Linked DNA regions of Homo sapiens. The protein of the gene in region 2 interacts with the protein of the main gene of each other region in a pairwise test. Each region holds a gene or a part of one and is shown on either strand. Other genes may lie near its edges. The genes, in order: KRT24, AARD, CEP57 and TFIP11.

Evidence for each region.
Region 1: the proteins of AARD (region 2) and KRT24 interact in binary tests that used the Homo sapiens proteins (3 or more experiments, as listed by UniProt).
Region 3: the proteins of AARD (region 2) and CEP57 interact in binary tests that used the Homo sapiens proteins (3 or more experiments, as listed by UniProt).
Region 4: the proteins of AARD (region 2) and TFIP11 interact in binary tests that used the Homo sapiens proteins (3 or more experiments, as listed by UniProt).

Annotation. Positions count from the first base shown.
Region 1 is NC_000017.11:40,700,749-40,708,782, forward strand, and holds the start of KRT24 (keratin, type I cytoskeletal 24), read right to left. Parts: upstream 3,005-8,034; 5' UTR 2,946-3,004; coding exon 2,331-2,945; intron 1,186-2,330; coding exon 1,103-1,185; intron 549-1,102; coding exon 392-548; intron 1-391.
Region 2 is NC_000008.11:116,934,369-116,941,236, reverse strand, and holds the start of AARD (alanine- and arginine-rich domain-containing protein), read right to left. Parts: upstream 3,031-6,868; 5' UTR 2,994-3,030; coding exon 2,670-2,993; intron 1-2,669.
Region 3 is NC_000011.10:95,786,561-95,793,530, reverse strand, and holds the start of CEP57 (centrosomal protein of 57 kDa), read right to left. Parts: upstream 3,034-6,970; 5' UTR 2,833-3,033; coding exon 2,788-2,832; intron 1-2,787. Other genes in the region: protein FAM76B, read left to right, coding at 4,053-4,139, 4,968-5,032, 5,853-5,907. UniProt on the Homo sapiens protein: Centrosomal protein which may be required for microtubule attachment to centrosomes. May act by forming ring-like structures around microtubules. Mediates nuclear translocation and mitogenic activity of the internalized growth factor FGF2, but that of FGF1.
Region 4 is NC_000022.11:26,502,474-26,509,473, forward strand, and holds part of TFIP11 (tuftelin-interacting protein 11), read right to left. Parts: intron 4,456-7,000; coding exon 4,302-4,455; intron 3,987-4,301; coding exon 3,830-3,986; intron 1,321-3,829; coding exon 1,193-1,320; intron 1-1,192. UniProt on the Homo sapiens protein: Involved in pre-mRNA splicing, specifically in spliceosome disassembly during late-stage splicing events. Intron turnover seems to proceed through reactions in two lariat-intron associated complexes termed Intron Large (IL) and Intron Small (IS).

The DNA.
Region 1 (8,034 bases), on a different chromosome or scaffold from region 2:
TGCGCCATCATGCCCTGTTTATTTTTGTATTTTTAGTAGAGAGGGGGTTTCACCATGTTGGTCAGGCTGGTCTCGAAATCCTGATCTCATGATCTGCCTGCCTTGGCCTCCCAGAGTGCTGAGATTACAGGCATAAGCCACCGTGCCAGGCCTATTTTACTTTTTTAGAGACACAGTATCTCTCTGTTGCTCAGGCTGGAATCCAGTGGCATGATCATAGCTCACTGTGGCCTCCAACTCCTGGGTTCAAGGGATCCCCCTGCCTCGGCCTCCAGAGTAGCTGAGACTAAAGGCATGAGCCACTGCACCCAGCCAATTTTATTTGTATAGAATGCATATGGGGAGAAATATGTTAGCTAGAGTTATTCGTTTATGTAGAACATGTTCCTACCTCCTCGTGGTTCTTCCTCAGGTAGGCTAGCTCCTCGGTGAAACTCTCAATCTGCATCTCCAGGTCAGAGCGGGTCATAGTCAGGTCATCCAGGACTTTCCGCAGGCCATTGATGTCAGCCTCCACGCTCTGCCGGAGACACAGCTCGTTCTCATACCTGGAAGGGGCAGCAGTAAGGCAAAAAATACTGTGAGCTCACCTGGCCGTGTTTCAAAGGGTACCTTCCATTCTTACATATTGAAAAAGTTCTCACTTGTGGGCATTTTAATAAATAAAGGTTATTAAGTTTTCTCTTGGGAAATTTTCCCTTGTAAAGAAAAATACCAATGTAATGTTAATTCTAATCATGTCTAACATTTTTAATAATAAAATTCTCATTCTAAATTTGCCTCTTTCTTTTTTCTTTTTCTTTTTTCTTTTGCAGCTGTTGTAGGCTGATGAAAGGAGCAGAAGCGGCCGGTGTGTAGCTACTGGCTTAGGTGCTCAGCAGAGAGGATCTACCTGCCCCAGCATCAGTGGAGATTTGTCTAATGGTCTAAAGTTTACCCTTGGGATGTTTGTAAATTTAGGTCATGATCCTCTAGTATATATATATATATATATATATATATATATATATATATATATATATATATATATATTTATTTATAAAATGGAATAAAATTTATTTTTCTCCCGTAACACTTGTTTTCAAGTCTTTATGTTTCTTACTTCAGTCTGAAGTCATCAGCAGCCAATCTGGCATTGTCAATGTGCAAAATGATCCCAGCATTTTCAACAGTGGCAGCAATGATCTAAAAAAGATGTTAATAGTGAGTGAATCACGAATGATTTTTACCTTGTGTCTGCATGCCTACTTGTAAGGGTAGCTGTTGCCTGTGTTATTAGCTCTTTTTTTTGTGTGTGTGTAGAGACAGAGTCTCGCTCTGTCGCCCAGGCTGGAGTGCAGTGGCAAGATCTCAGCTCACTGCAACCTCCGCCTCCCATGTTTAAGCGATTCTTGAGCCTCAGCCTCCTGAGTAGCTGGGATTACAGGGGCGTGCCACTATGCCCGGCTAATTTTTTTTGTGTGTGTGTTTTTAGTAGACACGGGGTTTCACCATGTTGGCCAGGCTAATCTCAAATTCCTGACCTCAAGTGATTTGCCCGCCTCAGCCTCCTAAAGTGCTGGGATTACAGGTGTGAGCCACCGTGCCCGGCCTGTGCTATTAGCTTTTAAAGGTGACTTGCTTTGCAAACTTACTTAGTAATGACTAAGTATACAGCCCCAGACCTGTATATCTGGGGCTGGTATATTTAGGACTACATCTTTCTGCAAAAAGATAACAGTCTGCACATTTATTGGACTAGGCACAGGAACCTGTTTTACAGGACATAGTCCTCTGCATATTTCTGCTACTTTGTTAGATCATTATCTCATGAGCTTTTTCAGAAAATAGTGCAAAAATTGTATTTCACTTCCAAAAAAGTCTTTAAAAATATATTTCCCATACAAAAGTGGCTAAACATTTTAGATTCTACTACATTCTTATGTAATGTTTGCACCAGATTTTCTGGGAAGAAAAATAATACTAAAGAATATTTAAATCTTGTAAGACAATAAAATGTGTCAGTCTGTCAGAATTCATCATAAATAATTAGATTAAACTAATGTTGACTCACTGCCACCATTCTTATATATAAATGATAATTAGCTGCCTGGTGTTGTATAAGTTTTACTGTTATGTAGAAATACTGAAACTGAGATGGAAACAGAAAATTAATGTGATTGGACATCACATAAGGTACTATAATAATTAAGACACATCAGGTCCCACTTTGCATATGTAACAAGCAAATATGTTTTCAAATAATTTCTTAAAATTTTCATTATAGTACATGATCTGAAAAGAAGTGAAAGATCCACAAATAATAGAAACTCAGGCACAGATAGTCTCACCTGGTTTCTGAGATCTTCAATTATTGAATAGTATTTGCTATAATCTCTTCCCGATCCACCGTCTCCAGACCCAGGCCCATATTTGTCATACCACTCCTTGATTTTGTTCTCCAGATCAGTGTTAGCCTCCTCCAGGGCTCTGACCTTGTCTAGGTAATTGGCCAAGCGGTCATTGAGGTTCTGCATGGTTTGCTTTTCCCCTCCAGAGAAAAGCCCCCCATCGCCAACACCACCTCCCATACCACCACCATAGCTGTAGAAGCCTCCAGTAGCACCACTGCTGAATCTAGAACTCCCACAGAATCCAGAACCCCTGCCAAATCCAGAGACCCCGCCAAAGCTAGAACCCCCACCAAATCCTGTCCCAGAGCCTGAAGCTCCCCCAAAACCACCCCCTACTGAGCAGCTACCAAAGCCCCCTCCAAAGCTGCCCCCAAAAGCACCGCTAGACCCCCCACTCAGGCTGCAGCTGCTGGCTCCTCCTCGGAAGCCCTGGGCCGAGCTGCCCCCCAGACCACATCTGCTTCCACTGCTGAAGCTGCTTCCACCAGCAGACACCCTGGCTGAGCTGCTGCCTCCAGCCCTGGAGGAGGAGGCGCGAGACGAGCAAGACATGGTGCTCCTGCAAACATGAGCTTGTCCAGGCGAATAGGAGAGGTGATGACGAAGAGTGTATTCAAGGCTGCCTTTTTGGCCTTTATATACACACTTCGAGGGTGTTCCTTTTCTCTGTCACTTCTTAATCCCTGTTACAGTTTTGGTAATCCGTAATTGGATAATTTCTGTTTCTTGAACACTTCTCTGAAGCTAGGTCAGAGCCCTGGGACATTTACTATATCAATAAAAAAAGAATAAAGTGGAGCAAAACAAAAAAATTTTCAGAATTACAGTTTTAATCTTTCAGAGGTTTTGATGATTGGTAACTTTTCTCTGGAAGTGTAGTTCTATTAAATTTGCTTCATGATTTCACATTTGCAGAGAATATCTCCAGGTTAACAAATGTAATTAAAATACTTAATATGATGAGAATAAAAATTTCCCATCAATCATGTAACTTTTTTGTTCATATTGTTCTCAAAAGTTGAAATTAGCTTTCACATCAGCAATAATTTCAGATTTGATTAAGCATCCATCTCTTTGATTATTTCAATCAGCGTGTTTTTTAAGGTTGTTGAAGTTTGTGATTTTAAGTTATTGCTTTCTTTTTTTGTATTTTGTATAATATACAAAAAAGCATATAATTTGTAACAATTATGTTTTATAGTTCATAAGAAAAACATAAATAATAGTTTTCTAGGTAAGTATTATTACATCTCAGCAACATGTTTATTCAAGTAGCTAATGTCTAAGAAAGATTGAAAAGCTTTTAGGCAGATTGTTTTAATACGATTTTCTTTCTGGTTGAATTCTAGTCTGATATAAAGACAGCAACTTCCTTTTTGAGTCAAATTTCAAGAAATGAAGAGATGATGCAGATATCTCCTGCCTTCGTTTTAAAGATAAAAGAGGATTTGTATCTACTTCTGATAACTAGTGTTACAATTGGAGTTATTTTATAGATTCTGAACCCTCCTGAGCTCCCTTTGTGCTTCATGGCTTTTTGTCCCTTTGTATTTTAGACTGTTTCCATTCATGTCTTCTAGTCACTTCACCGGTTTAATAGTGTCTTTTTGAAAGACAGATACTGTATAATTCCAGTACTATGAGGTGCCTAGAGTAGTCAAATTCACAGAGACAGAAAGTAGAATGGTAGTTGCCAGTGGCCGAAGGGTTGGGGATAGACAGTTGTTGCTTACTGGGCATAGAATTTTAATTTTGCAATATGAAAAGAGTTTGGGGCCAGGCGTGGTGGCTCACACCTGTAATCCCAGCTCTTTGGGAGGCCGAGGCAGGTGGATCACCTGAGGTCAGGAGTTCGAGACCAGCCTGGCCAAGATGGTGAAATCCCGTCTCTACTAAAAATACAAAAAATTAGCCAGGCATGGTGGCAGGCGCCTGAAATCCTAGCTACTTGGGAGGCTGAGGCAGAGAATTGCTTGAACCCGGGAGGCAGAGGTTGCAGTGAGCCAAGATTGTGCCACTGGACTCCAGCCTCAGAGACAGAGTGAGACTCGTCTAAAAAAAAAAAAAAGAAAAGAGTTTGGGAGATTGGTTGCACAACAATGTCAGTACACTTAAGACTACTGAACTGTAAACTTATAAATGATGAAGATGATAAGTTTATGTTATATGTATTTTACCACAATTTTTAAAAAGTCTTAAAAAACAGGTGCTTCCAGAAATAGTTTGTATCCTCCTTAGCTTTAAACTTAAGTAGCTGACTTTTGTTTATTTAAGAATTTCTTCCTTCTTTTGCCAGTCTCTGTTAAACTATGTTCACACCTTAATCTTTATATTCAATTATTTGTTAAACAATGTTCTGCTTTAAATTTTTCCTTAAATTGCATTTTATTGGGACACATGATTAAATAGGTAATCATTCACTTTACTATGTAGCTCTTATGTGGCTTTTATGATCTACCTGTACTGTTTTCACAGGAGTATGATGTTACTCTTCTTCATATTTAGGGTGACATATCTCCAAGGGGTACATGGTGTACAAAATTTTAAATTGTTAAGCTGGGAGTAATTTTTATAACGCCCTTCTAAAGTAGCTAAAAAATGCACCACACATAATGTGTTGGTCATCCTGCCTCGCCCATCCCTAAAGCTGTGAAACCAAAGAAAACTAAACCCTAATGATTAAATGGTATGCAAATGCTGGCAATGGGAGGAACAGTCACAGAGTGTTTCTCCCTTTTAAAACTATGAAATGTAATCTTTCAATTTTCATAAAGACTTGCATTTGGCTGAAAGCACGTTTAAATCCCAGCTCCTTCGGAGGCTGAAGCAGGAGAATTGCTTGAACCCGGTGGGTGGAGCTTACAGTGAGCAGAGATTGTGCCACTGCACTCCAGCCTGGGCGACAGTGCGAGACTCCATCTCAAAAAAAAAAAAAAAAAAAAGACAGAGAGAGAGAGACAGACTGAATCTTAGGTGTCTGGGCTCCCAGTTCAAATTTTGAATAGTTTGTGATTAGAAGTTTATTTCTACCTGTAAAGAAACATATAAAAGCTATATTTCCTTATAGAATATGATTTTAATAATAAGTGCAGAATGATTTGCAGATAGTAACCATCAATTTTTTTTTGTGTGTGTGGGGGATAGATTATTAGTATTTAAATATTTTTCAGATTAACATATTGCAGGTTTTTAGACTAGTAGGAAAACCAAATACTGAAATGCATGGCATATGGCTCCTGATGAATCTTTACAGAATTGAGAACAGAACTTGGGTATTCTATCTTCTGTTCATTCAAGAAAATATACTGTTTTGTGTTTTTCAAATAGAAGCATCACATCAGAGTAGTTAAGGGAAGTTGCTGGGTTTAGAGTATTTGTTGAATGTTGACAAAACTTTCTGTGGCAGACAGTAAAAAAGAAGGGAAAATATACATTTAAAAAAATTTTAACTTTTAACTTTTGTGGGTGCATAGTAGGTATATAGATTTATGGGGTACATAAGATATTTTGATATAGGTGTACATATCCCATCAGGGTAAATGGGGTACCCATCACCTCCAGCACTTATCCTTTGTGTTACAAACATTCCAATTATACTATTTTTTAGTTATTATAAATTATACAAGTAAATTATTATTGACTATAGTCACTCTGTTATACTATGAAACACTAGGTCTTATTCATTTTTCTAACTATTTTTGGTACCCATCAAGCGTCCTCACTTTTCCCCTACTCCCCCGTTTCCCTTCCCAGCCTCTGATAACCATCATTCTACTCTCTATCTTCATGAGTTCAATTGTTTGAATTTTTAGCTCCCACAAGTAAGTGAGAATACACAAAGTTTGTCTTTTTGTGCTTGGCGTATTTCACTTAACATAATGACCTCCAGTTTCATCCACGTTGTTGCAAATGACAAGATCTCATTCTTTTCATGACTGAATAGTACTCCGTTGTGTATATGTGCCACTTTTTTTTTTTTTTAAGACAGGTTTCACTCTCGTCACCCAGACTTGAGTGCAATGGCGCGATCTCGGCTCACTGCAACCTCCACCTCCTGTGTTCAAGCGATTCTCCTGCCTCAGCCTCCCGAGTAGCTGGGATTACAGGCACCCACCACCATGACCAGCTAATTTTCATATTTTCAGTAGAGACAGGGTTTCACCATGTTGGCCAGGCTGATCTTGAACTCCTGACCTCGTGATCCGCCCTCCTTGGCTTCCCAAAGTGCTGGGATTACAGGCATGAGCCACCGCGCCTGACCTGTGCCACTTTTTCTTTATCCATTCTACTGTTGATGGATGCTTAGGTTGCTTCTAAATCTTGTCAGTAGTGCTGTAATAAACATGGGAGCACAGACATCTCTTTAATATAGCAATTTTCTTTCTTTTGGACACATTGGAAAGTATAAATTTGATGTGTGAACAGTCTCTTTGCAATGCCGTTGCAATGACAGATAGTAGATAGACAATAAATATTCCTTGAATTAATAAAAACTAACATGGCCTGATTTTCTTCATGAACAACTTGGATCACTGATTACTTTTGTTCTTTACTATGTGTTGTGTTTTGTTTTCTGAATCTTTATGCTCCACTTCTGGGTTAGTGATTCTCAGTGTGTGGTGGCGGAGAGCGGGGCTTGGCAGTAAGAGGAAATGTTGTTTGGGAAGAGGGCAGAAAGGTCAGGCAAGAGTCAACCGGGGACCTTCCTGTAGGGAATCATTGTTTGGGCCAGCTTCCTGCTGGTGGCTGCTCTAGGCCCCGCCAGGGTCAACTACTTGGAAGAGAAAAAAGGTTTTGCAATAATAACATGACTAAGAGCCCACTCCAGTAGATCTGGCACCACCCGTCGATGGATTGGGTGTGTCATTGTCACACCCCAGAAATCCACCAATTCTGTGGCTGTTTCTCTTCCTTCATCACTTTCTCTCCTTCCCCACCACCCTCGTCCATTCTTTCTCTTCCTGGTTTCACTTAAGTGTGTCTATTTGAAGGCTTCCTCTTCTCCACCAGGAAGCATCTGCTTGGTCATGCCATTTTGCCAAATTTTGTTCTGGGAAGAAAAATCACCTGGCTTTGTTCTTGTATGTGAGTGCTTTCAAATCTCTTTAAATAACTCAATTCTCTATGTTTCCTGAAGATCTTTCCGTGAGTTTATGGAGAATTAAGAGAATGGGTGAGTGACTTTGCGGGGGTTGGGATGCTTTGTCCTCCAGGCTCCACAGATAAGACAGTTTGAAATAAGCACAGTTTTCAAGGATTAGCTCTGCTTAAAAAGTCCTTTTGTGCCTTTCTTCATACCAGACAGACAGTAGTCTTCTCTTCAGAGAATCCAAAAGCATGAACAATCCAGATCATAACTTGAGCAGTAGGGCCTAGCCCCTGTGCCTCTTGCCAATGCTAAGTTGATACACTGGGCCTTCCTGCTCTGTCTCTTCCAGCTTGACCCCTCAACCTCCTGCTGCCCTCTGATGTCAGAGAAGCTGCAAATCTTTGGTCAAGGAATCCAGGGCTTAAATAGTAGTTTCATAGCAAAAGAATGGCATGGTATTTTACACAAGATCATATTTTATATGATAGGCTCAGAAGAAAGCTTCATCAGTCTCAAGTCTCTTGTCCTCTGTCCACCAGAACTATAACACAA
Region 2 (6,868 bases):
TGCCTCTCATCTGTGCATCCACAGCACTCTGTACAAGTGCCTCATAACACGCTGACCAGACGAGACTGATGATTTTGAGGGTAGAGGCTGTATATTATTCATAATTGTATCCCCAACTAAGAGTGCACTGCCTGGGCACACAACCTAGTAGGTTCTCTGTGTGTTTGTTATAAGAGTGAGTGAATTAATTAATTAATTAATTAACTGATGAATATCCGTCCTGTACTTTCATGCAAGAATCAAGGAGAAAAATTATTGGTAATGATTTACCATCTAAGTAAAATAAGTATGTATAATTCACACTTACTTAGGAAATTCAAACATCAATGGTTCTTTAACTTTTCTTTCATCAAGGATCCCTCTGAGAATCTGATGAAAGTTATGAACCCTCTCTGAGGAAAAACTATATGCACATCAAAAATTCTGCATACAATTTTAGGTATATAGAACCCCTGAGATGCACTCACAGACCCTAGAAGTGAATGATTCTTACTAAGAAAACCCAGTCAAACAATAGAAAATAGTATAAATTGCAACACAACTCTAAATTAATTAAATTTGTTCATCGTTCCTTACGAATATCATCCTAATATATGATACATGTACACTTGTATAGGAATATATGTCAGTTCCTGTAAAAATCCAGTTAATAGCCGAAAATTGAAAACTAAGTCTTCTAGTGGTAATGATATTAAGGTACAGTATCCACACTCCTTTGCCTCTTCTTTATGACCAGGATAAAATGATTGACCAAGATGTTGACCATCGTCTGTAACCCAAGGACACATTATTTGTGTATGTGTAAACTTCTCTGGTTCCTTTCCAGAAAAACTCCTGATTTTTTTATAGGAATGTATCAGTTCTTTTTTGGTACAGTCAGAGTCCAAGGTCTATAGTAATCATTATAATAATAAGAGCCACTAAACAATACCCATGGTCTAAGCATTTCATGGAATATTATCTCACATAAGCTCTGGAATCCTATGAGATTATAAATTCCATTTTACAGATGGGTAAACAAACTCAAACTGGCTAAGTAACGATCCCAAAGTTGTAAGGCCAACAAGTGTTAGCAGAACCTGTAAATGGTAATGTTGGTATTTGAGCCCTCATCTGTTTAGATTTTATTGCCACCAGCGGTCTACAGCCATACCACCCTGAACGCACCCGATCTCGTGAGATTTTATTGCCACCCCCAACATATTGCTTGTCTAAAGCTCCTAACAAGCAACTTATTAAAATGTTATGATTGAAAGCTGTCTCTGAGCTTATTCAGTGTAATCTCCTCATCTGATTTAAATATGAGTCCCCTGAGGCTCAGGAAGGAGTACCGGCAGATCCCAAGACTACAATGCAGAGATGGCTGCGCCAGGTTTCAGCCTTCCAGTTTAGCATCCTGGCCCATAGCACAGGCCTCCAGTGGCCGAATGAGGTGGCTCCGGCTACCCTGCAGCTCAGACTCACTGCTTAGACTCAGGGTGAAAACCAGGTGTTTCTTTGACATTGTTGGATAAGATAGTAAATCTGGTAGTAAATCTAATGTAACCCATGTTAACAATCTGAATCTGACACGGAATTTAGGATATTGTCCTTTTTTTGTTTTTGAGACGTTGTTTCACTCATGTCTCCCAGGCTGGAGTGCAATGGCGCAATCTCAGCCCACTGCAGCCTCTGCCTCCCAGGTTCAAGCGATTCTCCTGCATCAGCCTCTGGAGTAGTTGGGATTACAGGTGCCAGCCACCATACCTGGCTAATTTTTGTATTTTTAGTAGAGACAGGACTTCACCATTTTGGCCAGGCTGGTCTCGAACTCCTGGCCTCAGGTGATCCACTTGCCTCGGCCTCCCAAAGAGCTAGGATTACAGGCATGAGCCACAGCTCCGGCCTAATACTGTTCTTCTTAAACTTAGAAATGCGATAACATTCTTAAATAAGACAATTTACTAATGGTTGGCTCAGTTCTAAAGTAGTGGTTAATTGTATTAGTAATCAGTGCAAAAGAGAAGAATTTTCCAAGTCAAGTCTCCACTGCACACTTTCCTAGGCAGCACCATTTTAAAGTCTGATTGCTCCTATTCATTGTGTCCTTTTCAAGTTGTGACTAATTTCCAGTTTTTTGAATTAAAAAAAATCAGTCAGCTAAAATATTTACCTATACACCCTCCTGTTTAATATTCGGATGTAACCTGTGTAATGTTCGAAATGGTGCAATTTTACAAAATACCTTATCACTTCCAGTTTTCTAAATTATTACCCACGGGAAAGATAAGAATAAAACTTGCGGGGCATAAAGAAAGAGTTACTGATGGACACACTCCATCAATCGCAAGAGAGAGTTTATTTCATGGAAATTTCCTCCTCCGCGAGCCATACATACACATAGTCACAGTTCCCTACAGGGCAGAAAACTATAGAAACGGGTTGGGGAGGAGACATCTTGGGTATGTCACTGGTAGACCAGGCACCCCCGCCCCCACCCCCCACCATGGGTCCTGCAGGGCCCTTTTCCTTCCCAACGATGCTGGGGAGGCGGGGGCGTCAACGCCGTGTCCAGACCTGAGGGGCCCCCCAAGGCGTCGGGTGGGCTACGCGGCCAGCGGCTCTGCAGCTGGAGGAGAGGACCCGGGAGAGGGAGCCCTGGGAGCCGTCCGCCTAGCCCGCTCTCTCACCAGCTCCGCCCGCAGCCTGGCCAGGGTGGCCTCAACGCCCGTCCAGCTCTGCTCCTCCCGCGCCGCCGCCGCCGCCGCCGCCTCCTGCACGCGCCTCGAGATCGCGCGCTGCACCGCCCACTGGAAGGCGCGCGTCAGCCGTCGTCTGAGGTCCTCCAGCAGCGGGCTGGCGGCGAGGGCCTCCTCCTGGATGTCCGTGCTCCTGCCGTCCCCGAAGAAGTCGCACGCGGGACGAGGTGGGAACCAAAGCTCCGCTCTACCTGGGAGTCCCTGGAGCCCCTGGGAAATTCTCTCTCTGCAGCGGCGGAAGTCCCCGGGGCCCATCGCGGAGACGCCTGGTCACTGCTCTACCGCTGCTGCTGAAAGATGAGTTTCTAAGTTTGATGTTTAGGGCGGGGTCAGGGCGGGGGCGGAGGTAATTCAAGGACCCTTGCCAAGTGGGATGCTGCAACTGCCCCGCCATTCAGAGACGCTCCTTTGCTCCCAGTCCCATCTTAGTCCTCCATTAGCGACAGAGGAAGGAGGCGGTTCCCATAACTCCAGGAGAAGTTTAAGCTGAGTCGCTTTTTTCTGCTGCTTGCATTGAAAGGAAGTCTTTCTAAGGAGAAGGCTTGGTAACTGAGCAGTCAGCCTATGTAAGTGGAAGTTGAGGTACAGGTGGAAGGTTTATGACCAAAGGTTAGAATATTTCAACCCAAAGCCTTCCTGGTTGCCTTGATCGTCTAATACGTCATTCCTTAAAAACAATTTTTTTTCTTCCTACTCTGCCAGGCACTTTGCCAAGTTTGGGGAATGCAAAGGCTTAATTAGACCCCTCACCTTTCCCCAGGTATTGCCCGCAGTCAAGGGGGAGAGCCTTGGCCCTGCTTGCTAGTTAGAATGTACCTTCTACAGGTTCAGTAAGGCATACCTGGAAGTCTGAGTCTCCATGCTCCTTTCTATTTTGACTCCTGTCTGCCATGTCCACGTTTATGAAGGGGTTAAAATGAAAAATCAAAATTCCCCTTAGCCCAAAGTGTGTGTGTTTAATTCCCAACTAATAAGGTTTGGCTCTGTGTCATCACCAAATTCCAGTGGAATTGTAATCCCCAGTGTTGGAGATGAAGCCTGGTGGGAGGTGATTGGATCATGGAGGTAGAGTTCTCATGAATGGGTTTAGCCCCATTCCCGCCTGGTACTTTATAGTGAATGAGTTCTTACCAGATCTGGTTGTTTAAAGTGTATGGCACCTCCTCTCTCTCTCTCACTCCTGCTCTGCCATGTAAGACACTTGCTCTCGCTTTGCCTTCCACTATGAGTAAAAGCTCCCTGAGGCCTCCCCAGAAGCAGATGCTGCCATGCTTTCTGTATAGCATACAGAACCATGAGCCAATTAAACCTCTTTTCTTTCCAAATTACCCAGTCTCCGGTATTTCTTTATAGCAGTGAGAGGACAGACTAATACACCAACTCCAGGTAATCATGTGCCAATATTACCTGTATATCCTTTATCAAAGAACATATTCTGCCTCTTTTTGATCTAATAGGGAATTTCTAAAAAGGAGTGAACAATCAAAACTTTTGTATGATCAAAGAATGCAATTACAAAAAAAAACAAAACATAGTTTAGACACAACTCTCATCTTATTCATCATTCATTCATTCATTCATTCAAAAGTTACAAGTCACTTGCAATGTTCCAGGGTCCATGGTAGGCATTGAAGGCAATAACAACTGATTTTTATTCATGCTTAGTATGTGCCAGGCAATTTTTATGTATTAATCTTCACAGCAACCTTGTGAGGTAAGTACTATTAGTTTCTGCATTTTACAATTGAGGAAACTAAGGCAAGAGATTAAGACGTACACCAAAGATCTCAAAGCTGGTAAGGGATCCACTGGAAATTTGCACCTAGGAAGTCTGGCTTGTGCTCCAAACCACTGGGATACACCCTGGATACGCTTTATCTCCCAAAGAGGAAGAGAGTTGCTCAGTTTATATGTTGCATGAGTGAGTGAGTAAGAGTGAATAAGTGTTTAAATTCACTATGTTCATAAAATTCGGCTCTATTGAAATGGCTTAAGGCTCAACTGGATAAGGAACAATACAGGTTACTCAGCCTGTGCAGATAATCTACTAAATTGAACAGCTTGCAATAGTTTACAACCCAAGCACAGTAAAATTCCTACCATTGTATATTGCTTCATAAAGATTCCCTAGAAACATCTGAAGATGTGTTGTCTTGGTAGAAATTATAAAAATCCATGTGGTCTGCCATGCAGCAATGGAGTGTGAATTTAGGGTTTTTTGTTTGTTGGTTGGTGATAGGTTGATGGGGCTTGAAAACCACCACTAGTCAATGTACAATATAAACGTTTAAAATGAATTTTTTGCTATGATTTTTCACTTCCATTTCCAGATCATTTACTTCAACAAGAATTTCAGTTAAGTTCAATTTAACTCAACAGTGAATGGCGCATGTTCAGTGTTAAGAATTGTGCCATATGAGGGAGATACAAAGATGAATAAGGCATAGTTTTTGTCCCCCAGAAGCTTAAAACCTGAGGAAGCAAATTTATTGATTCATTCATTTAACAATATTTATTTAATGTCTTATTATGTACCAAGCATTACACAAGGTGCTCAAGCTACAATGGCAAACCAAGGAGACAAAATGTTTTTTTAAAATAAACTGGTTTACCACAAATTAATAATTTTCCTCTATAGGTTAATTTTTCAGTTGTGGTACACCTTGAATTTTACAATTTTTTTTCTTTCTCTTACACAGGCAAAGCAAATTGAAGAATTGGAGCACTGAATATAACATCCACAGACATTTGAATTAGAAAATGTATTAATTATTTATTGCTGCATAACAAATTACTCCAAAATTCAATGGTTTAAAAAAATAAACATTTATTTTCTCTGACAGCTTCTGTGGGAAAGAATTTGGGAACAGCTTAGGTTATGGTCCTTAGCTTTTATGCTGTTGTAACCAAATGTCAGGCAAGGTCTCCATCCTCTGAAGCTGGATGTGATTGGCGCTGGAGGATCTGCTGGCAAGGTGAATCACTTAGATGAATCACTCAAATGCCAGGCAATTGGAGCCAGCACTTGGTGGGAGGCCTCAGTTCCTCTCCATGTGGACTCTTTCCTACTATTGTGTAAGCGTCTTCATGATATAGTGGGTAGACTTCCCTCAAAACAAGAAGAGAGAAATACAGAGAGCCAGAGAGAAGCTCTTTACATGTGCTCTGAACTACATTTTTATGACCTGGCTTTGGAAGTCAGTTATTACCATTCTGCTGATCAGTATCAAGTCTCTAAGTTGGAGCTATATTCAAGGGGAGGAACCTCAGCTCCACCTTTTGAAGTAGGGAGTATCAAAAATTTCCAAATATATTTTTAAACTACCATGGGAGAAACATATGTACATTACACGTAAGTAAACAATGATACAAATGACTTCTGACTTCCTGCAGAAAAAAAAAGGAGTCCAGAAAACATTGAGATATTTTTAAACGCAGAGAGAACTAAATTAACACAGAATTCTAAGTTCAGCAAAAATATCCTCCCAAAAACCAATCTCAAAAAGCATGTTTTTAAAAAAGGAAAATTAGGAAAATTTGTCACAAGCAGGCTTACACTATAAGAAGTACTAAAGGAAATTCCTCAGCTGAAGTAAAATAATAGTACAGGGAAACACAGATCTTCAGGAAGAAATGAGTAACATAAGAAATGGTAAGTATCTAGGTATACGTAAGTGACTTTGATTCCTCTTAATTAATAAACATATGGTTTTATATATATGTTTTTAAAAAACAAATATATATATTGTTATATACATTTTTTAACTTAATGGTTAGGAAATACCTATATCTTGTTCACAACAACACAAAACCCATTTAGCACATACTAGGTGATCAATTGCCTAGTTAATTAAACTGAACAAAATATTTGATTCCCTCTATTTCCCTGATCTTCATCTCTGGCATTTGTTTCACTGCAGTAATCCAGTCACATGAGCCACACCTGAAAGTATGCTATCACCCAGAATGATATCTTTAAAAGCCTGAATTCTGAAAATCTATTCTCAGTCCACATCCTTTTTTCTATCCACAATTCACTCTGACCCCTCAATTCAAGAGAAATGACTTTCTGAAGTACTCTTCTGTTTCTCTTTTCCCACCCAGAATCTTGTGGTAAATTATTTCAGCTA
Region 3 (6,970 bases), on a different chromosome or scaffold from region 2:
TTTATTATTCTCAAAAAGTAAATCTTATATTTAATATTATAAAATGTATGATAGCCATAAAACATTTTTAAGGGAAATTAATATGGAGCTACTGTGCAGCTTGGTCGAAGGACCAAAAGTCAGAGGGACAAATCAAGAGATTAGGTCATTAATCACCAAGGTTATTGTGAAAATATTACAAGGCTGACATGAAAGACATTCTTGTGTATTTCAACACAATGCTGCCCATACCTCCATATGGAATTAATTTCATTATGCCCAATCATAGTTGCTTTCCTGCCTTTTCCACCAGTCGAAGTTTATCAATTCCAGAGCAATCACTCAATAAACGTTACCTAGAACCTAACTGAAACCTATCGCCCTACTTCCATGCTGTTCACATTTGAGATTTACATGGTCACTGCTTCCCAAAGACGGTTATTTATGAATCTACTTGTTAAAAATCTTTGCCTGTAAAGCATCTCAATGTACTTATAACTAGCTCCGTATGAGTTTATCAATGTCGAAAACAGTTGAATATAACAGTTGTTAATCTTCATAACCGTGAAATCTGAATACGAGTTGTGTTCTCAGTTCATGGTATAGTTTTAACAAGTTTTTTTTTTTTTAAATGTTGCCTACTGTTAAGATCAGCTGTTTGATAAGCTAAGTGCTTTTCCAACGCTGTTGGAAATGGCAGCCTTATTTCTGATGGGACATCTAAGCAGGACGTTTTCTTACGCACCAAGAAACCAACTAAATTTAGTCATTTTTGTTTTGAGAAACAGTAACTTCCAAAATAGACATTTTGATGTAGCAGATTGAGTTATGGTTGTTATACTTTGATTTGTGGAGGTTCCTAGATATTCTTAGTGTACCCTTGATATTTAGAATCCTATTAAAGCTGAGCTTAGCACAAAAAAAATATGCTTTCCTAATGAACAGTCTTTGGTATTTCTGTCAAGGGTACCGTATAAGTATTAACAGCTGACTATATCCCAGTGCCAATGCTCACCTAGGTGTCCTTGGCATAGTGCAGCTCAATTAAACGTTTATTTAATATTTTATTTTATGGAGACAGGGTCGCTCTGTCGCCCAGGCTGGAGAGCAGTGGCACTATCATACCTCACTTCAGCCTCAGTGATCCTCCCGCCTCAGCCTCACTAGTAGCTGGTATTACAGGCATGAGCCACGCACCCAGACTCAATTCAACATTTGTAAGAGTATTCCTTGTTCGGTCTCCAAGTGCTTAACTTTTGAGAGCCGTGAAAAGCCCTCTTCTCCCAAGTTTAATCACATCTCCTATAAAATCTCATCCATCTGCTGACACTTCCAATAGTTTTTTACTTTTTTCTTTTACTGACCTAATCCTGAATAACCTTAAATTGCTGCTTTCCTTACTTCTCCTTAACTTCCCCAGACCTCTCTGCAAACTTCTAATTCCCATTCGGCTGAAACACTGTAATACTTCTAGTCCCATTATTACAAATTCTAACAAGTCTCCAAAAGCTGAAACTGACTTCTCCAAGGTGACCAGGCTTTCTTAGCGTTTCCAACTCTTTCCCCCTAGATCCTAGAAAATAACTTTACCCTGATACTCTTCTAGTTCCTTCCCTCACCATCCTTCTTTTTTCACGTTTTTACCTACGTTTCCAATTCACCTCATCCAGCTCTACCTCCGTATTACTTCTTCTCATTCCGAACTATCTCAAGTTTCCTAAAAGCACCTACTGTTCTAGCACATACTCCAAAATTCCCGCACTGCCTTTTTCTCCTTTCTCTACTCTTGGGACAAGCAATCACAATTCCTTCGACACGCAACTAGCTCCATCTTCCCTTCTAGGAAACCTTCTCTAGCCTACCCAAGCACTGTTAATCACTCCCCTCTAGATTATTCTACTACGGTAGCACTTCCTAAACTATACTGCGCAGTAATCACTAATTACGTGTAGTTTCTCTTCAGTGTTTTTCTCCTTCAAAGCAGGGTTTCTATTCTGTTCATTTGGACCCTAACAGTATACCAGGCATCGAACATTTGCTAACTGGAGAAATAAGAGCTCCAACATTTACTTCCTATCAAAGCTTTCCAATGCCGCGGTTTTCAAAAACCTAAGCATTCGACACTCCAATTTGAGAAATACCAGTGAATACCAGTAACTAAACTGGATGGTGACATTTGATGAGGCGAAAACAATATTTAAAATCAATTCCCCCTGTCGCCTCTCCAAAAGGGCATTTCCACATTGAAGTTCCAGTAATTCTAGGTGACAGGAAGCGCGCGTTCTGGCTACGAGCATCACACAACGAAGTTAATGTGGATGGGAGTGGGAGGCACTGCAGGGATAGGAAACAGCATAAGCAACGACTAGTAAGCGCTCGAGAGACGGCGGACTACTATTCTGCAACGTCTCTTAAACACACTGGCGCGCCTCACCTGATCTGGCGAGTTTCCTAGAGGGGCCGCTGAACCCACGTGACCAAAAGAGCTACATTTTTGCAGGCCAGGGAGTGGGCAGTTATCCCAGCCGGCCCTTGGGAATGTTAGGCAACCGGGGTTGGTTGCTACGCCAAAAGGTGAATAAGGGCTGGGGAACAGGGGCGGCCAGCCCAGTTTCACTGGGAGCCAGAGGGTGCAGCTTCGACACAGCCACAGTGAATGGAAGCTTGGGGAGCGCGGGGCAATCTAGGCATTCCCGCCGACCTCCAGAATTGCGTCAGAAGCTGGACTGACAGCGCCCTGAAACGTGAGGAAACTCAAAGAGGCGCTTAGGGCCGACGTGGGGCCCACTCGCGCCAACTGCTTCTTACCGACAAGTGAGAACCAGAAGCCGCAGAGACAGACGCCGCCGCCATCTTTCAGCCTGCCCAGGGGGTCTCCGCACTTCGGGGGCGGTCTAGGTTCTCGTGCTCTTCTCCAAGACTCGGGAGCCGCCCACCAGCGGGGACCCTAGGCTGAACCCCTGATGGAAAAGGGCAAGGGTGCTGGTGCTGGGCTTGGAAACCCCTGCAACACACCCCCTCAGGGCCGCCTACGCTCACAGCTTACACAGAAAGGGCAACACGTCCTAACGGACGTCTTTCCTAGCCAATCAAAACAGCAGACGTCTTTCTGTAGTAGGAGAGAATCCGCCTCTTCCCTGGTGACGTCACAAGGTAGCGCGTAACGGGGCCCGCTGGGGCAGACAACGCCGGGGTTACAGGCCGGCTCTGCGGGGATTCTACGGAGGGTCGGGCCTCCTCCAGTAAGAAGCGTGGGCGAGTAGTGGTGTCGCCAGTGGCAACTGAAGGGAGTAATGGAGATAAAACAAAAGCGAAGGCGAAGTTAAAGCACTCCACGAGTTCCCTCGGATTAAACGCCGGAGAGAGCGTGAATTTGCCTCGGGGACGCCTCTCCAGGTGAAGTATTTACCTTTTGGCCAATAACAAATAGGATTAGGAGGGACTTAACGATTTAGTCCAATAGAAAGCAAGGGAAAAAAAGTTGCGGCAGAGAACGAGCCTTTCGCGAACATTTGCTCAATTGGATTGGGGCGCTCTCAGCCAAACCTGGGACTGGCTGTTAGAAATAGCCGCGACCGCAGACCTTTGGGCGGGGCAGGTTCAAAGCGGATTTCGCGCGCTGAGAGCTCCGGGATGTCATTGGCCGGCGACATCCTCCCTTTGTGGGCGCTTCCTGCGTCGCGGAAGTTGGGAGTTGGGAGGAGCCATCGAATGACGCGATAGCCTTCGCAGCCAATCAGGGATGGGAAAGGGAGGCCGAGAAGGAAGCGGATCCACGGCCGCACAGCTAAACAGCAACCCCCTACCCGCTTCGTCTCCCTCCGCCGCTATCGGGGCCTAAGCGGGAGCGGCTGGCACGGCGTCACTGGGTGGGCTGGGGCGGAAGTGGAGGCGGAGGGAGACGGTGGCGTCGTCCGCGGGGCCCTGGGCTCTCGCGGCGAGGCCCTGGTGGGCGCGAGGCAGGGGGAGGGGGAGGAGGAGGAGCCCGCGGCCCGGGCGGCGGCGGCTCTCGGGTTCTCCGTAGGGCCCCGCCTCGGAGCGGGCGGCGGCGGAGGAGGAGACTGAGGAGCAGGATGGCGGCCTCGGCCCTGTACGCCTGCACCAAGTGTACCCAGCGTTATCCTTTCGAGGAGCTCTCCCAGGGCCAGCAGCTCTGCAAGGTCCGTGGGCTCCGGGAGGCGGGCGGGATGGGTGTCCTCGGCCGTAGCCGGAGGGGGCCGGGTAGCCGCTGCACTGCAGCCCCTCTTCGCCGGCGCCTCAGGGGTTTGGGAGTCTGGAGCCCTCGCCTCCCCACTCGGGGACCCCTTTTTCTGGGGGCTTGAACATTAGCTGGGAACGGACCCTGAAAGGGAGGCAGAATCGTGCCCTTTTCCAGGCGGCCCAGGAGGGTGCCGGGCCCCGTCAGCGTCTGGGGGTCTCAGGAGTGGGGTTGAGTGAGGCAGCCACCTGTCTATGCCGCAGAGACCCAGGGGTGGAGATGTTTTCATCTCGGTTTTCTGCCTGGTCTGTCCTCTTCTTCCACCAGGAGGCAGGGGACGGTTTTTGCACTTTCTTGCTAGGAACCCGAAGCCGCAAAGCTGATGGCATCCTTCTTCCCTGTCCAGGAAAGCGAAGCGACTGGTTTGGGAACAGAATGCTCTGATTTGGAGCTCCTCCCATCCCATTAAAGCCTGGATGCTGTCTGTGAGCAACGGTGCAAAATAATAAGTAGTTTCACATTTAACCAATCCTTGAAATAGGCCCTGACAGCTTTCTTAATTTGTCTGTAATATACCCCCACGTCTACTAAAGACAAAGACACCTGTGCCTTCCCTAAGGAATTATATTGTGATTGGCCACTTATATGATAAAGCATCCAGTTCTTTACGTTGGGGCCAGGTTTTATAAATGTTTTAGACTTTCACTAGGTTGGGTAAACAGTTTTCTACCAGAAAAGTGAGATTTGGGACTTTCAGAAAGATACTGACTAATGTATTGTCTTATTACAGGAATGTCGGATTGCACATCCTATTGTAAAATGTACTTACTGCAGATCAGAATTTCAACAAGAGAGGTTTGTATACTGAATAGTTTTTGACTGTTAAAGACAAGTGTTGTCTTTATGGAATACTTGGGGGTTGTAATCCCATGTTTTTATGAAAGTATTTTTAAAAAATGGTTTAGCCCCAGAAATTTTAAGTTGTAAACCTTTTATACATGGTGGGAGAGAGAATGTTGCGAAAAAAACCAGTGGTGGTTAATTTACAGTTAGACTTTATATGAGAGAAGGAATAATACTACATGGAAAATGTACAGCCTTGCTAATGAAAATGCAAATGTAAACAGTTATGTTAAACTAAAAAAAAATGGTAAAGCCTTAATGGATCTGAGGAAAGGTCTGTAGTGTTACCAACTGCCTTCCAAGGTGAAAATCTAATAATTTGTTACATAGAAGAGGAGTAGTACGTAACATTTTTAACAGTTCCACTCTGAGAGTATATACAGAAAGTAGCCTCAGAAAAGAACAAATAATTTCTTCATAAATAGGTGTGGGCATTATAATGTTGGACAGTAGCCAAGTGGAAGGTTAGGTAGGCACTGGTATTGTAATGCTGTGCAGTAATAGTGTCAAGTGTGAAGATTTTGGAGCTATATAGGAAACATTAAGATGTTTTGTTTACAAAAAGTAATATGCAATAAAAATGTATAAAAACATTTGTCATAAGTTAATTTGGGTAAAACAACTCTGAAAATATCCTTGTATATTTGAAAAAAATCCGTGGTCCTTATTAAAGTTTTAAGTACAACAAATCTTTGACTCATTTTATTTTGACATTGTGCTAATTACTTTAGAAAGCTACATAAACATGATCTATATACAATTTATTTTTCAGCAAAACTAACACAATTTGTAAGAAGTGTGCTCAAAATGTGAAGCAATTTGGGACGGTAAGTATGTCTTATGTTTTCATGTCATTGTTACCAGTTAATATTTTTCATAAAGCTGGACCTTTTAAAAAAATATGTACTGCTGGCTGGGCACAGTGGCTCACGCCTGTAATCCCAGCACTTTGGGAGGCCGAGGAGGGCGGATCACAAGGTCAGGAGATGGAGACCATCCTGGCTAACACGGTGAAACCCCATGTCTACTAAAAATACAACAAAAAAAAAATGAGCCGGGTATGGTGGTGGGCGCCTGTAGTCCCAGCTACTCCAGAGGCTGAGGCAGGAGAATGGCGTGAACTCAGGAGGCGGAGTTTGCAGTGAGCTGAGATCCTGCCACTGCACTCCAGCCTGGGGGACAGAGCGAGACTGCGTCTCGAAAAAAAAAAACTACTGCTATGCTCTTAGATATTTCAACATACCATATTTTATGAAAGACATTTTCTATAGATACTTTGATGGAAAGGTGATAACATTTAAAAACAGTCAAATTATATACCTGTTTTACATGTATTGAATCCAGTGTGAAATTTGTGAAGCTGTTCTTTAGAGATTCAAATATAGCAAATTCTTGGTTATGGAGAACTTATCCATAAAGTTTGCATCATCAGACTTTAGCCCACTTCAGAACAGCCTCCTCAGAACTATTTTTATAAAACAGCGCAATTAAAGATATTTATTCACAGAAGTCATGACCCAATCCTAGTACAAATTGTCTTATATGTATACTACAATCATTATAGGTATATTATACCAATATTATTTATTATTGGTCAAAAATGCTAACTTTAACGCTCTAAACTGCCCTGAATCATCTTTTGAATATCAAAGAAAATCAAGGTATGTTTTTATAGTTTATGTTGAATATGCTTGTTCTCATTTTTTCAAAGTTGAAAACTCACAGTATATATTCCTTATATGATTTGTACCTATATGTGATGAAAAGTTAACATTTTCTAAATAAATGATATGGTCATTAAGGTAACTAGGATATTAGTAGAAGGACGTTTCCTCAAATTCTTGATTCATGAGACTTCTCTACATATGTACCTTTATTTTCGTTCTTTAA
Region 4 (7,000 bases), on a different chromosome or scaffold from region 2:
AGCAAAGGTGTCTCTTACAATCAGGGTCTGCAAAACCTTTCTAGAGGAGGAGCTAAGGCAAGCTTGTCCAACCCGCAGCCCAGGACGGCTCTGAATACGGCCTGTTTACGAACACAAATTTGTAAACTTTCTTAGTGTGACGGTAGTAAAGTCCAGCCCACAGAAGTTGGTTTTGGGGTTGTCACTATGTTTTTCTCATACTGGTTAAGACTTGTCATTTTTTCTCTAAAAGTATCTAGACATCTGGCTACTTTGGGAAAATCAGAGGATCAGGCAATACTGAGCCCACATCCTCATAAGCAACAATCACCTAGAGCTGAATAAAGATTTACCTTCTAGACAGACTACAGCCTCACCTCTGTGCCACAGTCCCCACCACTCTTTATTGTCTAGCACCTGGCTCATCTTACTTGCTTCTGTGGTGTGCCTGGCACCTGTAGGCTTCTGAGAACACCTGACTCACAGTGGTCAATCCCACATTTATCAAATAACTCTTTCATGAAAAGGTCAGTGACATGAAGAGTAACATGTCTCTTTGCAGCATCCTGCTTTCCCCCATAAATTCAAACAGGAAAAGAGTAATACTTCAATCAAGAGAGCTGGCCCTTTCTATCACTGGGGAAAAGGGACACACAGCTGCCAGCAGATGGCTCCCTGCTGCACTTGGGATGAAACCTGAGCACCTAAAAATGGCTGTCATGGCTGTCTTGTGGACCACCCACCCCTCTGAATGCACTTCCTTCCCCTCTGCTTTGTGTACCGCCCTCCCACCGCAAGGGCTTCCTTTATGGTTTCTTAACCACCAAGCTCAGAGCCTCTCAGTGTCCTCTGGCTTGTCAGCTCACCCTTCTGCCAAGTCTCAACTGAAATGTTTCCTTTCCCAAAAGGTTTCCCTGACCAGCCTATTTATAAAAGTAGGTCAACACCACCTCCCAACCCCCAGCCTTATTTTCTGTCTAGGCAGCTCCTGGCACCTTCTGCCATTTCAACTGCCACTTCCACACCACAGCTGCTTGTTTACTCTCTGTCCACCCTAGCCCTCTCATCATGGTGCACCTAGCCTTCAGCCCAGTACCTGGCATACGGTACATGTACAATAAACATCTGAGGACTAACAGAATGAAGGGATAAATGAACAGCCATTAGAAATGGACAGGACACCATCCACCCATGTCTCCTGACTTCCAGTTACCTCTTCAGCTTCTTCCTCTGAGTCAACCACAGGGAAGTCTTGCATGGACTGAGTGGTGCGCTCGGATCCATAAGCCCCCACAGCACCTTTTCCCTTTCTCTGCTTGGCTTCAATTGGGTTAATGATACCTGAGGAATTTCAGCAAAAAAAAAAGAGAGTCTTACGATCACAGCAATTCATGTATGTGAATCAGCCACTCAGTGAAATGACAGTTTCTTGCTCCTTCCACAAAATAACATGCTACTCAGGAAGGAGAGCTATTCTCTGCCCTCAGAACACTACTCTTGTCCCTTGTGATTTGAAACTTATGAGCATTTATGCTACCACAGAACAGTCTGCTGACTAGTTTATTTATATCCCAAATAGATTTCCATTTCCACTTGGATTGTTTAGTGGACAGGAAGAAAACAGAACACTACATTTATAACTGAGAACTCCAGCACACTAAATTCTATGCTTCACTTCTTTGGGAGCCTCTATTAGGGAAAATGCAATAATTCCAATACTATACTGATTCTGACTGAAGTGAAGCTGCAATTTAATATAAGACTCCTCACATATTTTACTTAGGAGTTCCTATCTCCTGTGTTTAACTTTTTTATAACAAGTTTAAGCCCTGGAAATAAACGTTGTTTTTCTCATAAAAGAGTTTACGAATAGGACCACAACATTTCAATGAAGACGTTCCCCTGACTCCAAATTTTCCATCCCTGCCCCCCTTCCATTTAGTTCCACTGAAGTCTTAAATAAGAGCTATCCCTGGGCCAGATGTGGTGGCTATGCTTGTAATCCTAGCACTTTGGGAGGCCAAGGTCTTGAACCAGCCTGGGCAACATAGTAAGACCCCATCTACAAAAAAAGAAAAAATTAGCCAGGCACAGCAGAGTGTGCCTGTGGTCCCAGCTACTTGGCAGGGTTGAGCCCAGGAGGTTGAGGCTGCAGTGAGCTATGATCATGCCATGCCATTGCACTCTACCCTAGGTAACAGAGTGAGACTTTGTATCAAAAAAAAGCAAAAAAACTGTCCCCTCATTCTCATTCAGTGTATCTTTACTCAAGTTCATGTATTTTTCATGTACCTAATGTTTTCAACACATAACCTGGATTTCACTTTAATAATTATTTAGAGGCCAGGCGCAGTGGCTCACACCTATAATCCCAGCACTTTGGGAGGCCGAGGAGGATGGATCACTTGAGGTCAGGAGTTCGAGACCAGCCTGGCCAACACAGTAAAACCCTGTCTCTACCAAAAATACAAAAATTAGCTGGGCGTGGTGGCGGGTGCCTGTAATCCCTGCTACTCGGGAGGCTGAGGCAGGAGAATCACTTGAACCCAGGAGGTGGAAGTTGCAGATGAGTTGAGATCGTGCCACTGCACTCCAGTCTGGGTGACAAGAGTGAAATTCTGTCTCAAAAAATAATAATGTTATTATTATTATTTAGAGACTGGAATTTGAATATGTAGGATACATTTGATTATATCTACTTGGCAATCATGCATAGGAAATAGCTCAAGAAGAGGGGGAAATGTTCCTGTAGGAAGAATCCAACTGTTTGGTTTGAGAGGCTTTGGTCTCAAGAAGGTAAGAGTGTGACAGGGGCTGTGTCTCAATGGGGCTGGCCATGAGAAGACAGGAGGAGACTGGGCTACTAGAGGAAGATGGAAGTAACCAATGCAGGATTTGCTCAGCCAGTTTTATAGCCATATGGCTCTAGCTATTACAAAAACTATGCACGATGTTTTACTGATATTCCTGAAGGACAAATAGGGTTATTTCCACAAAATTAAAACCCTTGTGAGTAGGGATGGCAAACTCAAATGACTCTGGGACCAAGAAAAGTTCCTGTGGGTTGGGGTGGAAGACAACAGGGGGTAATGGAGACTGCCTCCAAGAGAAGGCCATGTCCATCGTCCCAGGAGCAGTTCTCACTTGCCTCAACTAACTACTGCCAGGCAAAATCTAGAATTTTAGGTGAAATTGTCTGTTTTTTAAATATTAGCAACTAATTCATTTTTGTTTTTATTTATTCTATTTATTTATTTATTTATTTATTTATTTATTTATTTATTCAGGGATGGAGTCTCGCTCTGTTGCCCAGGCTGGAGTGATCTCGGCTCACTGCAACCCCCACTTCCTGGGTTCAAGCGATTCTCCTGCCTCAGCCTCCTGAGTAGCTGGGATTACAGGCACATGCCTCCACACCCAACTGATTTTTGTATTTTTAGTAGAGACGGGGTTTCACCATGTTCATCAGGCTGGTCTTGAACTCCTGACCTCAAGCGATCCACCACCCGCCTTGGCCTCCCAAAGTGCTGGGATTACAGGTATGAGCCACCACACCCAGCCTCATTTTTGTTTTTAGAAGCACTGGTCAGGACCAGAAAAAAAGCCTGTTTTCAACCTGTTTGCAGCCTGTTTTAGACCCTAACCCTTTCCTTGCTGTTGAAACAATTACTTATTTAACTTGAGCTTTGATAAAGCAAGGTAGCTTAGGAACGCAAATGTCTTGTGCTGGCAAACCAGGCTGGAGAGATAAAGTGCTTTTAAAAGGGAAAAGCAAACCTCCTCTCCCAACGCCCCTCTCCTTCCCTATGCCTGCCCTCCTCCATCATGCAAGACGACAAAGGTGCAATACCTTGTGCATTCTTCCCGAGGCCCCGTCCAGGGACGTAGCCCATCTTCTGAAGAAGCTTCTGTCCAATTCCTTTTGTGTGTCTTTCCCAGCTGCCGAAGTCCATGAAAGATTTGGTTCCTCCTGCAAAACCTTTCTGGCTGGGCTTAAAATTGCCACCCTGCAAAAAAGAAAAATCAAAGCTTAGTTAATGGAAAAACAAAATGAAGAAAAATCTAAGAAAGCTTGGCCAACAGGAAAATGGCCTAAGTTATACAGCACTATGAAAAGTGTCATATGAACCAAAAATGTGTGTGATAACGTGTCAGGAAGGAAGAGACTGCACTACACACTTCACAACTCACAGAAACCTGCCACCAAAAGGAGACACTCACGAAATTCATTCCAGATGAGTTTCTCCCTGGCTAGAAAATGCTTGGGCCACAATGACCTTTGAAGGATATTCCTAGGGTCACAATCCTGCAATAGAGACTACCGTTTTTAGCTTCCTTGGTCCAAAATCCTTAGGAAAGTCGTCCTGCTTAACAGGTTTCTCTTCGTCATCAGAATCTTCCAACTCTGCCTCCTCCGCTGCCCCTTTCTTGAGCCCTGCGCTGATGAAGTTGACTGGCGCAGAGTAGTCACGGGCCCTGTAGGCACAGAAACAAAGCCCCACCAGGTCGGTAAAGAACTCTTTTCTCTGCAGCGATCCTTTTGCAGAAACTACGTGCTTGAAGACTCCTTAGAGTGAATCTCATGGGAGGTTTTTTAAAAAAGTAACACATTTTTTAATGTGTCAAAAAATCCAAAGGACCCCAGATTTGGCTTCCTGTAGTCACATTTAACATTTTACCTGACATATCCCTCTACGGCTGAAGAGTTATCACATCAATGTAGGGTTGATTACAAATTCAAAATATGATGTGATAATACAATTTTCCTACATTTTAAAAAATTAATTTATCATAAAAAGCAATTGTTTTGAAAACTATTTCAAGTACAAAAATCCAACAGGAGCAGAAATTTTGATGGAAAATCATAAATAAAACCCATTGAAAGATTATATGAATGTAAAGCATGTAACAATTATATTAATCAAACTTAGAAAAAGCTCCTAGCCATTAAATTTATTTGAATGTGAAAATTTCCAGCCAGGGCAACATGGTGAGACTTCGTCTCTATAAAAAAAAAATAAATAAAAATTAGCCAGGCATGGTTGTGCAAGCCTGTGGTCCTAACTACATGGGAAGCTGAGATGGGAGGATTGCTTGAGCCCAGGAAGTTGAAGCTGCGGTGAACTATAATCATGTCACTGCACCCCAGCCTGGGCAAAAGAGTGAGACCTTATCTCCAAAAAAAAAAAAAAAAGAAAAGAAAATTACACTAAAGTCCCCTAAGAAATAAGAAATTAACTCTATAAAATGAAATATATTGATTTAAACTCTGACTGCTTCAAGTACTTACATTAAGCCATTAACCTCAGGTCTTTTTTGTATAAAATAAAATTGATATATTTGTACTGTGTGGTTTAAAAAAGAAAAAATTACAATAAAAAACCCTGGAGCCAGGTACAGCGGCTCATGCCCATAATCTCAGCACTTTGGGAGGCTTGAGGCCAGGAGTTCAAGACCAGCTGGGCCAACATAGCAAAATCCTATCTCTAATAAAAATACAAAAAACTAGCTGAGTGTGGTGGCACACGCCTGTAATCCCACGCCACTCAGGAGGCTGACGCATGAGAAACGCTTGAACCCAGGAGACAGAGGGTGCAGTGAGCTAAGGTCACGCCACTGCACACTCCAGCTTGGGTAATAGAGACTGTGTTTCAAAGAAAAAAAGAAAACCTGGGAATACAGCAAATAAAGGGATGCCTTGTAAAATGACCAACCTAGTAATTCAACACCCTCAGGGCAACAACAGAATTTAGGGAGTTTTTTCCTAAAATTGTAATATAACTTAGTGATTTAGATCCCAAACTCTAGAGTCAGATAGGTCCAGGTTCCAATTCTAGCTTAGCCTCTGCCTAGTTGTATGACCATTAGCCTCAGTCTCTTAATCTGTAAAATGGGGACAATAATGGTACCTTTCTCATAAGGAAAATTAATCCAGGTTTATGAAATAGCCAGGACAAGTAAGCAGCCAAGAGATGTTAGCTATTATTATTATCTTATGATTATGCAATTCTTGTTCCCTGATCTATTTGTCATCCACTTTCAGACTTCCTTGTGGATGAGAAGTTTGGACTAATCTCTATACTCTTTCTCCCCCAGCCTCCTTTGAAAAAGGCACATTCTCAGCTGGGTGTGGTGGCTCACGCCTGTAATCCCAGCACTTTCGGAGGCCGAGGCAGGCGGATGACAAGGTCAAGAGATCCTGGCCAACATGGTGAAACCCCGTCTCTACTAAAAATACAAAAATTAGCTGGGTGTGATGGCACATGCCTGTAGTCCCAGCTACTCGGGAGGCTGAGGCAGGAGAATCACTTGAATCCAGGAGGCAGAGGTTGCAGTGAGCCAAGATTGCACCACTGTACTCCAGCCTGGCGACAGAGCAAGACTTCATCTCAAAAAAAAAAAAAAGAAAAAGAAAAAGGCACACTCTCAATAGGATAGAGCCTAGAGGCCACAGGTGAGGCCATGGAGGAAAAAACCCCCAACCTGGCACACCCTGGTTGAGTGAGGTTCAGCCAGGGCACACATAACCTTGTGCTGGGGAGAAGACGTGCAGCCTGAATCCTCATTGCCCACCACTATCCTAGACCAGTCCTCCACTACCTGTGCAGGGACCACTGGCTTGGCCTCCTCACAGTCTTCCACTGTGGCTCCATGCCTATTGAGCACACCAGCAAAAGGGTCTTCTCAAAACATAACCCAGCCCCACATCACACCCTCTCTATCACACACACTATGCTACCCTTCCCCCTCTCTGCTCCAGCCCCCAAGCCTTTCATATCCTTGTGGATACCGTGATGCTTCCCATCAAGGGCCTTTGCATATTGGGACCTCTTCTACCACCCTAGTTACCTTCTACTGTCAGTCATATCAGCTTAAGGGTCACTTTTCTCCACAGAAATCTTCCTTGACCTCTCAGAATAGATGAAATGCCCTAAAATGTGTTCTCCCTCATGTCCTCATGTCCCTCATGTCCTGCATCACAGTCACAAGTTTGATCGTCTGAGTTGTTAATGCCTATTTC